2 separate regions of the Homo sapiens genome follow, and region 2 is linked to region 1. Evidence: fine-mapped expression QTL. A gene starts in region 1. The other region holds a variant in brackets. All regions are shown on one strand. Distances are between the middles of the regions. Region 1 holds the start of ZNF385A (zinc finger protein 385A). Region 2 overlaps GTSF1 (gametocyte specific factor 1).

Evidence for each region. PIP is the estimated chance that this variant, and not a neighbour inherited with it, causes the effect.
Region 2: its variant is the best candidate, but not a certain one, in a credible set for the expression of ZNF385A in whole blood (TOPMed, PIP 0.75).

What each region holds. Positions count from the first base shown.
Region 1 is chr12:54,383,031-54,387,418 of GRCh38, forward strand. ZNF385A (zinc finger protein 385A) reads right to left here and starts at 1,703. Exons shown (of 7, transcript NM_015481.3): 1 at 1,398-1,703. The coding sequence starts at 1,484. All of the region lies in intron 1 of GPR84-AS1 (GPR84, ZNF385A, ITGA5 and GTSF1 antisense RNA 1), which reads left to right. RefSeq lists an enhancer at 4,260-4,388.
Region 2 is chr12:54,458,691-54,463,078 of GRCh38, forward strand. It overlaps GTSF1 (gametocyte specific factor 1), which reads right to left. Exons shown (of 9, transcript NM_144594.3): 5 at 3,952-4,035; 6 at 3,419-3,482; 7 at 1,687-1,781; 8 at 399-435. The coding sequence ends at 419. The region is part of intron 3 of GPR84-AS1 (GPR84, ZNF385A, ITGA5 and GTSF1 antisense RNA 1); the gene reads left to right. Among named protein-coding and RNA genes, the nearest start is that of GTSF1, 13 kb to the right of the region's middle. The variant T/G (reference allele first, on the strand shown) is at 2,197.

The DNA.
Region 1 (4,388 bases):
ACGTGCCTGTAATCCCAGCTACTGAGGAGGGTGAGGCAGGAGAATGGCTTGAACCCAGGAGGCGGAGGTTGCAATGAGTCAAGATCATCATGCCACTGCACTCCAGCCTGAGAGATTGAGCAAGACTACATCTCAAAAACAAAACAAAACAAAACAAAACAAATAAAGCTTTAGCTTTAGCACCACATGCTAAAGCATCATCCTCACTGGAGACCAGCTTCCTCTTCCAACCCTCTGCCTCTGTCAGTGGTGACTTCCATCCAATCACAAAGGCCTGAATGCTGGAGTCATCCTTGACTCATGCCTTCTCTTCTCCCCCACCCCCAAACACCAGTTGGTCACCATGGCCTGTCAATATTTCCTTGAAATTACCTCCCCCATTCTCCCTTTCTCTCCACTCATACTGCCACTGCCACCAGCCCCGTCTGGCTTTTGAGGCTTCCCTCGGGCCTGCATTGCTAGGACAGCCTCCTAACTGTCACCTTCCTCCTGCCTCTGTTCCCTTTCATCCAGTTGCCCCACTCACCTTCCTCAAACACTGCTCTTACCAAGTCACTCTCCTGCTCAAGAATAGACAGTGGCGGCTGGGTGTGGTGGCTCATGCCTGTAATCCCAGCACTTTGGGAGGCTGAGGCAGGCGGATCACCTGAGGTCAGGAGTTTGAGACCAGCCTGGCCAACATGGTGAAACCCCATCTCTACTAAAAATACAAAAATTAGCCCGGTGTGGTGGCACACGCCTGTAATCCCAGCTACTTGGGAGGCCGAGGCAGGAGAATCGGTGAACTGGGGAGGTGGAGGCTGCAGTGACCCAAGATCGTGCCACTGCACACCAGACTGGGCAACAGAGTGAGACTCCGTCTCATAAAAACAAACAAACAAACACACGAATAGACAGCACCTCCTTATTTCATATTGTATTAAATCTAGACCACCTTGCCAGTCCTCCAAGCCCTATCCCACTGATGCTACCCACCCAGCCGTGGACTGCAGAGAGGTGAAACTTACAAACAGGCATGCTTATTTTCCTGCTCATTCCCTCTTTCTGGATTCAGCACCTACACCCCTCCTACCTCCCTACTGTTACTACCACCAATTTAAGTCTCATTACTTCTCTAGATGGTAGGGCGATTCACTGTAGGACTAAATGAGATAATTCATATAAAACACTTAGCACAGTGTCTGGCCCGTAGCAAGACCTCAGCAAATATTAGCTATTATTATTGTTGTTAACACTGTACCAGATGGCCCACAATACTCAAAATTAACTAGAATTAAGGAAGATGGGGTCATAAGAGGAGATAAGGAATTAGAAACAGAAGAAGAGGGCAGAGGTGGGTCTGAGAGAGAAAGGTCGGGTCACAAGAGGATGGAGAAGGCAGGCAGGCTGCTACTTACGGTGCTGTAGTTGCTGAAGAGGCCAAGGGTAGGGGCTGGCTCGAGTGGGAAGGGCAGGATCTGCTTGAGGTCCAGTGGGGGCTGCATGATCGGGGGCTGCCGTAGCAGAGGCAGGGGCCCTGCCCGGCTCAGGCTGCCTGAAGGGCAGAGAAAACATTCTGTGGGGTAGGAAGATTAAAGCTTGGGAACCCCACCCAAGCCTGCCAGTCCCACTCCCTAGCCAGGGCCCCCACACTCAGAAGTGTCACCCTCAGTGCACATAGTGTACACACTTCCCCTGCTGGCTCCAGAGCAATGGAGCACAGTGCCCTGTGGGCCTGGGGGAGGGTGTAGACCAGTCCTTCCCTTCTGGGTGGTTTTCACTTCCCCCTTTTCCAGCCTCCCTCCCCCAAACTCCTTAGGCACATTACAGACCCAGTAAGAGCTCATACCTTTTCTGCAGGCTGCCTGCTGAACCAGCAGGACTCCCAGCCTCAAGCCCCTGGCCACCCTCTTCTTCTGGTTTTGCTTTCCCCCAGGGGATCCTAAAGCTTGGTATCGCCCCAGGAAGAAGAGAGTCAAGTGGGTGATTCATCCTACTGACCAGAGGGGGATATTGAGACTTAGATTTGGAGGGGGGCTGCTGAATCTCTCAGATGCCCTAGAATTAGATTTTGCTCTAACTATAATTCTTTATTAACTATTGACATCTGTGGGGGTAGGTAGTGGGTTGGGTGGCTTTTGCTCTGGGAGGTGAACTACCTAGGCCATTCTCAGAGCCCCTTCTCCCAACCTTCCTCAGTCTTCCCCCATGCCCTTTTGTCTCACCAGGAATGCTCAGCTACAGGTCCAGTTCTGCAGGAGGAACCTCGACCTGGCCTATGGGCGGGGAATGCCTGGGTCTGACCCCAAGGGGAAATGAAAGTCCAGGCCAGCCATTCAACTACCCTTCTCTGAAACCTTCTCCTCCTCCTCTCAGAGTCACGGGAGGAACTCCACCAGACTCCAAAGGGGCAGCCCAAAGGTCCTCAGAGCCCTTCTGGGCTTCCACTGGCCCAGCTCCCTTCTGCGACCCTGCTGTGCACCAGCTGGGGAGTTCTGGCCGCCCTTCACTGCTCCAGTAACCCCCTGACAGCAACAGGGGTTCCCAGGAACAAAGGCAAACCGAGGAGGCTGCGTGCTTGGCCCGTCCTCCCTTGACTTTACTAGAGCAGAAGGTCTCCAGGATCCCTTCCTGTTCCCTCCAGACACCACCCCCTTTCATACCTTTAGTTTCTGATGCCTGCTGCCCCCAGGCAGTGGCCTGGCCCTGGCCCCCCAGGGGCCTGGGCCTGACAGCGTCCCCTTCCCTTGGTTCTGCCCTCTGCCCCCTCCCTTGCCAGCCCCCTCCCCCTCAGCCCAGTCAGTAGAATCAGCCAATCAGAATCCTGGAAAAGTGGGGCAGAGGGGAGGGCAGGGGAGCAGGGATTAGGGGAATCTGAGGCGACAGGGAGGGGGTGGGGAGGGCTCAGGCACAGCTGGGGGCTGGGAGCTGGTCCAGAAAGGTCTGGAGGGGTCTGTCTCTTTCACCCCATGCCAGGATGGGTGGTCAGGGTGACTGAGACAGAGCAGGGGGTCAAGGCTACTGGGAGTTTGGGCTTCAGAATTCTCAGGGCTAAAGGAGAGGGTAAGATCCTTGGCTTTGACCCTTAAGTAGCTGGGGGTCTGTATGCTTTGTGTCTATTCCCTCCTCTGTCACCTTCAAGGTTGGGATGGGGTGGAGAGAGGACACACACACACACACACACACACACACACACACACAGAGAGACGGACAGATGAAAGTGAGTGAGAGGATGGGAGAGTGGTAGCAGCAGGAATAGGTGACTGAGGAATCGGACAGTGACACTGAGAGAGAAAAGGATAGAGAACAATGGAGAGATGTCAGAGAGCGAAATCAGACATACAAACAGAGAGACACTGCCGAAAAGCTGGACACAGAACTAGAGACTAGGGCAGACAGACCGAGAGACAGAGAACAGAGACAGCGAGAAAGATAAAAGAGAAGAGAGAGGGACAGATAGATGGATGGGGCAGCTTGACCACCTCCCCTTCCTGGTCTGTCCCCTTATGGCATCTGCCCTCTGTGCCCCACCCTCCCTTACTGCCTGTTACCCAAGGCCAGGGCAGCCTTAATGAGCCCCAGGCGGCATCAGGAATGGTGAGAGAAACCTGAGTGCTCCCAGAGTCCCCTGCACCCAGCATCCACCCCCAGCAGCTGGTTTTGGGCTGGCACTTGCCCTGCCCCAGAGCACCAGAGGCTGAAGCTTGGCTTGACCCTTTCCCTGGTTCTAGATTTCTCTAGGCTCCCACTCCTCAAAGCCATCTTAAGAGGAGACAGCAGAGTTCCAGAAAAAGCCACAGAAAAAAATTTGAGGCTACTATGTGCCAGGTAATGAATTCCAAGTATTATCATATTTAACCTCTGAAGTAGCTCAATGAAGTAGCCATGATTCAATGAAGTAGCTGATAATATTTTTCTACTTGACTTATGAGGAAATGGAGACTCAGAGTAGTTAACAAACTTGGCTGATGTCACACAGCCTGTAAATATCAGAGCTGAGATATAGATCAAGATCTGCTGGACTCTACAGCAAATTCTTTCTCTGCTACCTTACTCCCAAAGGGCTTGAATTTAACTGAAGCAGAGATCTGAGCACAGGCTTCCATCTTGTTCAAGGAGAGGAAGGGGAGAGCAGGTTCCATGCACTTCCTCAGGTTGGAGTCCTCATTTTTCCTCCAGAGGAGGGATAGAGGAAAACAGGTAGCAGCCACTCAGTTATCTATGGCTAACAACTCATCTTTTCCACAGACATGAGCCCTGGGTGAGCGGGGGAGGGGAGGGGAGTGGAGTGGGAGAGAGGGGTCAAATGAGGGTACAGTGAGGGAAGGAAGCAGGCAGGCAACTGGAGACAAACTATCTACTTCCCAGATTCCTGGGTCCACTCCATTCTGAGGTGGCGAGAGAGGCAG
Region 2 (4,388 bases), 76 kb after region 1:
GCTCATTAAAAAAAGTATGAATTTTTTGATGAGTATTAAACTGTACTGCACAGGGAATGAATTGCAGAGCAGTGAAGCACAGCTCAATGATTAATCTCAGTCCATTAAAAGAGGCATGATAGATCTAGAATGCAACTTTGATAAAAAAAAAAAAGGCAATGTGTACTAATGTTAGAGAAAACAAATTGGCATGTTAACAGAATTCTAATTTAACCAGTAAATGCCTATTCATTAGAGTGTAAAGCCATAACAGAGGCTATATACTTAAAAAACACATGCACACACAAAGCTTTAATTTGGTACCATAATCTGAAAGAAAATTGGACCCAAATTGCTTTATGTCCAGTTAAATCTTGCTACCATCTGAAGAGACAGTGAAATAAAACTGAAACACTTACTTGATGAGATAGGTATTCAGTTACTGTGCATTTCCATCTACAAGTAGAAATATTTCAAAATAAATACACCATGTCAATTGAAATTCACTCCATCCCCTATTCTTACTAAACACAAATGACTTATTCCTGTGTATACTGAATTATAATATAAAAGTAGAAGAATTTAATATTAGTAATCAGATTTCATTCAAGAGCATGGGAAAAGAAAATAGACCTTTACCTACCAAGCCTTTTGACATATAATTTGGTGACTTCATTTTTTGGGAAATGCAAGTATCCAGGGAGAAACGTTTTAAAGTGAATCCTCTAGCCACCTAAAAATTAGCTCAAACAGTAGCACAGACTGAAATCAAGAGAATCTGAATCTAGGGGCAACATTGGAAAAGAAAGTTTGTATTAAGTAAAAATGACAGTATCTTGGGTGTTCTCTATGTGGAAATTTCATTATGACGGTAATATGATACAAATTTAGTACTTGTTTACCCAGCATGACCTCTAAAGTCTGGGGAGGACATCTGAATACCATTCTTTATGCTGGTTCTTATGACTTATGACTTTCATTTTCTCTCTACTCATTTCCTTTTAGGCCCTCACAATCCAATTTCTGATCCCAATTCCCTACTGATATTATGCCTTTTTTTTTTTTTTTTTTTTTTGAGACGGAGTCTCGCTCTGTCGCCCAGGCTGGAGTGCAGTGGCGGGATCTCGGCTCACTGCAAGCTCCGCCTCCCGGGTTCACGCCATTCTCCTGCCTCAGCCTCCCAAGTAGCTGGGACTACAGGCGCCCGCCACTACGCCCGGCTAATTTTTTGTATTTTTAGTAGAGACGGGGTTTCACCGTTTTAGCCGGGATGGTCTCGATCTCCTGACCTCGTGATCCGCCCGCCTCGGCCTCCCAAAGTGCTGGGATTACAGGCGTGAGCCACCGCGCCCGGCCTGATATTATGCCTTGAAAGAAATCAGGGATCACTTCCTCCTAGCCCAAATCATTAACCTTTTTATTGGCTCCCAAATTTTCTCATGGTATTTGACGTCAGTGGTCACCCCATTTTGAAAATATTCTTTTGGCTTCTGTGATCTTATACTTTCCTGTTCATAATTTCTTGCTCCTAACCACGGTCAGTAGGGTGAACTGAGTAAGGTGCTTAGGGCATAACATTTAAGGAGGCACTCACTTTAAGGGTCATGGAAATGCAAGGTGTTCAGACTGAACACATCTGAATAATCAAGATCAACTGTATTTAGCACAATGAAAAGAGTAAAACTATTTTGTCTCTATTTCACTTACTGTTTTTCCATGGCAGAACATACGGCAGAGATTTGGGAACTCGCATGCCTGAAGCCAGGTTATTCTTATGTTCTGTAACTATGTTGCTCGCAGGGCTGCAAAAAGATGAATTTGGCTATGTCGGCAGATCAGTATCATTCAAGCAGGCACACGTAAGATAATCAAAATGTGTTTTTTGTAATTTGGGGAAAAACAACAACCTACATTCATCTGAAATGTAAACACATTTCCATCAAAACGTTCCGGCAATTAGAATGATTACCACTTACTTCTCTGGAAAGCTCCCTGTTCTGTATAGACATTAAGATGGGTCTAACCATTTTCATTTTCTAGAAATTGAGATAAACAGCAATGCCATCTACTGTTCAGCTGTATGACAGGCTCATCAACTCACTCAATAAACGTAAGAGATAAAATAAAGTGCTAAGGCAACCAAACCAAAAGCAGCAAATCTTCAACTGAGGTAAAATTAAAAGTTGTAGCCAACGGAATTCATTTTAAGTTTTTCTA[T/G]CTTAGTGCACATAAAATAGTATACACTTAAAATTATTTACTGTTCTCAGTAGTTAAAAAGTAAAAATTTGACAAGCATTCTGTTTGGGGAAAAAAGTGAAGTCTAGCATCTTATTCCTTCATTTCCTAAACCAGAAATATTCTCATTTGGGTTTGAAACTTGATCTTCCAAGGTTTGAGTATTGGTGTTAATGAGAAATAGCTTCATTCATTTTTATTTTATTTTGGACAAGGACTCTTTCTGTCACCCAGGCTGGAGTGCAGTGGCATGATCATGGCTCACTGCAGCCTCGACCTCCTGGGCTTAAATGATCCTCTGGTCTCAACTTCCCAAGTAGCTGAGACTATAGGCATCCACCACCATGCCCAGCTTATTTTTTTTTTTTAATTTTTTTGTAGAGACAGGATCTTACTGTGTTACTCATGTTGATCTTGAACTCCTGGCCTCAGCGATCCTCCCACCTTGGCCTCCAGGTATGAGCTACTCTGTGCCTGGCCAGAAATCATCTAGTTTTCAATTAGAGCTGGGCATGAGCAACACTTTGGGAGGCAGAGGGGGGAGGATCACTTGAGGCCAGAAGTTTGAGACCAGCCTGGGCAAAAATAAAGAATTAGCTAGGTGTGGTGGTGGATCCCTATAGTTCTTGCTATTTGAGAGGCCCAGGGGGATCGCTTGAGCCCAGGAGGCAGAGCCTGCAGTGAGCCATGATCATGCCATTACACTCCAGCCTGGTTGACAGAGTCCCTGTCTCTAAAAAAATAAATCAGATACAAAATCAGTGGGAAGAAGAGATGCATATTCTTTCCTAATAGGTACTCTGGATTTTCCAATCTCAAATAAAGAATTTTTAAGACTGCTTTTTCCTATACACTAGTTACCTAAAGTAAAAATGATCCAAGTGGTATAGTGGGAGAATTTTTTCAAAGCATTAAAATAATGTAAACCTAGCAAAAAACATAACTAAGACACATGAAAGTCTGGGGCTACTGTTTCCCTTGCTAAACGATAATGTATTTTTGTATCCCTTATGATTGGCACAAAGCACATGACCTTTTTGAATCAAGGAATAAATATGAAAAAATGCCAAAACAATATCTAGACTAAACTACCATCAAGGAACATCGTTAAAGAAAGTGGTCAATTCATGCTCCGGTGGCTTCTCTTGGTAACAGAACACGCTGATTTTGGGAGACAATGCTGGGATAAGACTATTTCATTTACCTGTTGTTGTCAGAGTAGTGAGTTGTGCCCCAGACAAATGGGGTGCTGGTCTGCTCCCACAAATCTGTTAAAGGAAGCAAAACATAGTTTGTGGTACTACTAGATAAGACACCAGCAGTTCATGTTGGTTGAATTTATAAGATGGGAAATAATACACCTAAGTTTTGCAGAAGCAAGTAAAAATTGATCAAGTGTCCTGCCTAAGTGACACAGTAGCAAGAATTTAATTGAAGAATATAAACACAAGCAACATAAATAATAATAAACGTGCCTACTAACAATCAAACACAGATGGTACAACACAATTTATGGAAAAAAACAGATGTAAAGAAGTGCTTTTTCCAATCAAGAGGGATTGGCTGTTCCACGTGTCTGCACAGCGATACAAATGTGCTCGTTTTGGGGCCCAATAAAAATAATAAGGCATTCTGAACAACATGGTATGTTCATAAAAAAGGAAAATCTTCCTTCTGTCTTAAGCAAATGACTTGAGATTTAGACATTGTGAAGAAAAAGATGTAGAGGCAGCTCACCTTTATCCCAGTCTTCATCGCAAGGAGGGCACTGCCAAGTGCTCTCAGCCAGAGTCTCTTGTCTAAGGCTCCTGGTTTGGTTGACTGCAAGACAATAAAGATTGGATATAAGAGGGGGATATTGCCAAGTTATTGTGTTCAAAGGGGCTAGTAGCTTAAAAGGTTGCAAGGGTAGCCTGTTGGGTCTTTATTTCTGAAAAATGGATAGTATAAAAGCTAAAAGAGGGATCTTATCTCTTTGCTGACAGAAGAAAGAAAAGCAGAAACAAAAATGTTTACCATATTTATGGCAATAAAAGATTTATTTTTAGATGAATTATTAGTAAAATGAACCAGGCTGTTCAGGAGAGAAAACAGTATGACATGTACAATCTGACAACCTATTGCTGCCATGATACAAATCTCAAAGGTGGAAAAGTATTGTTCTTCTAAAACAC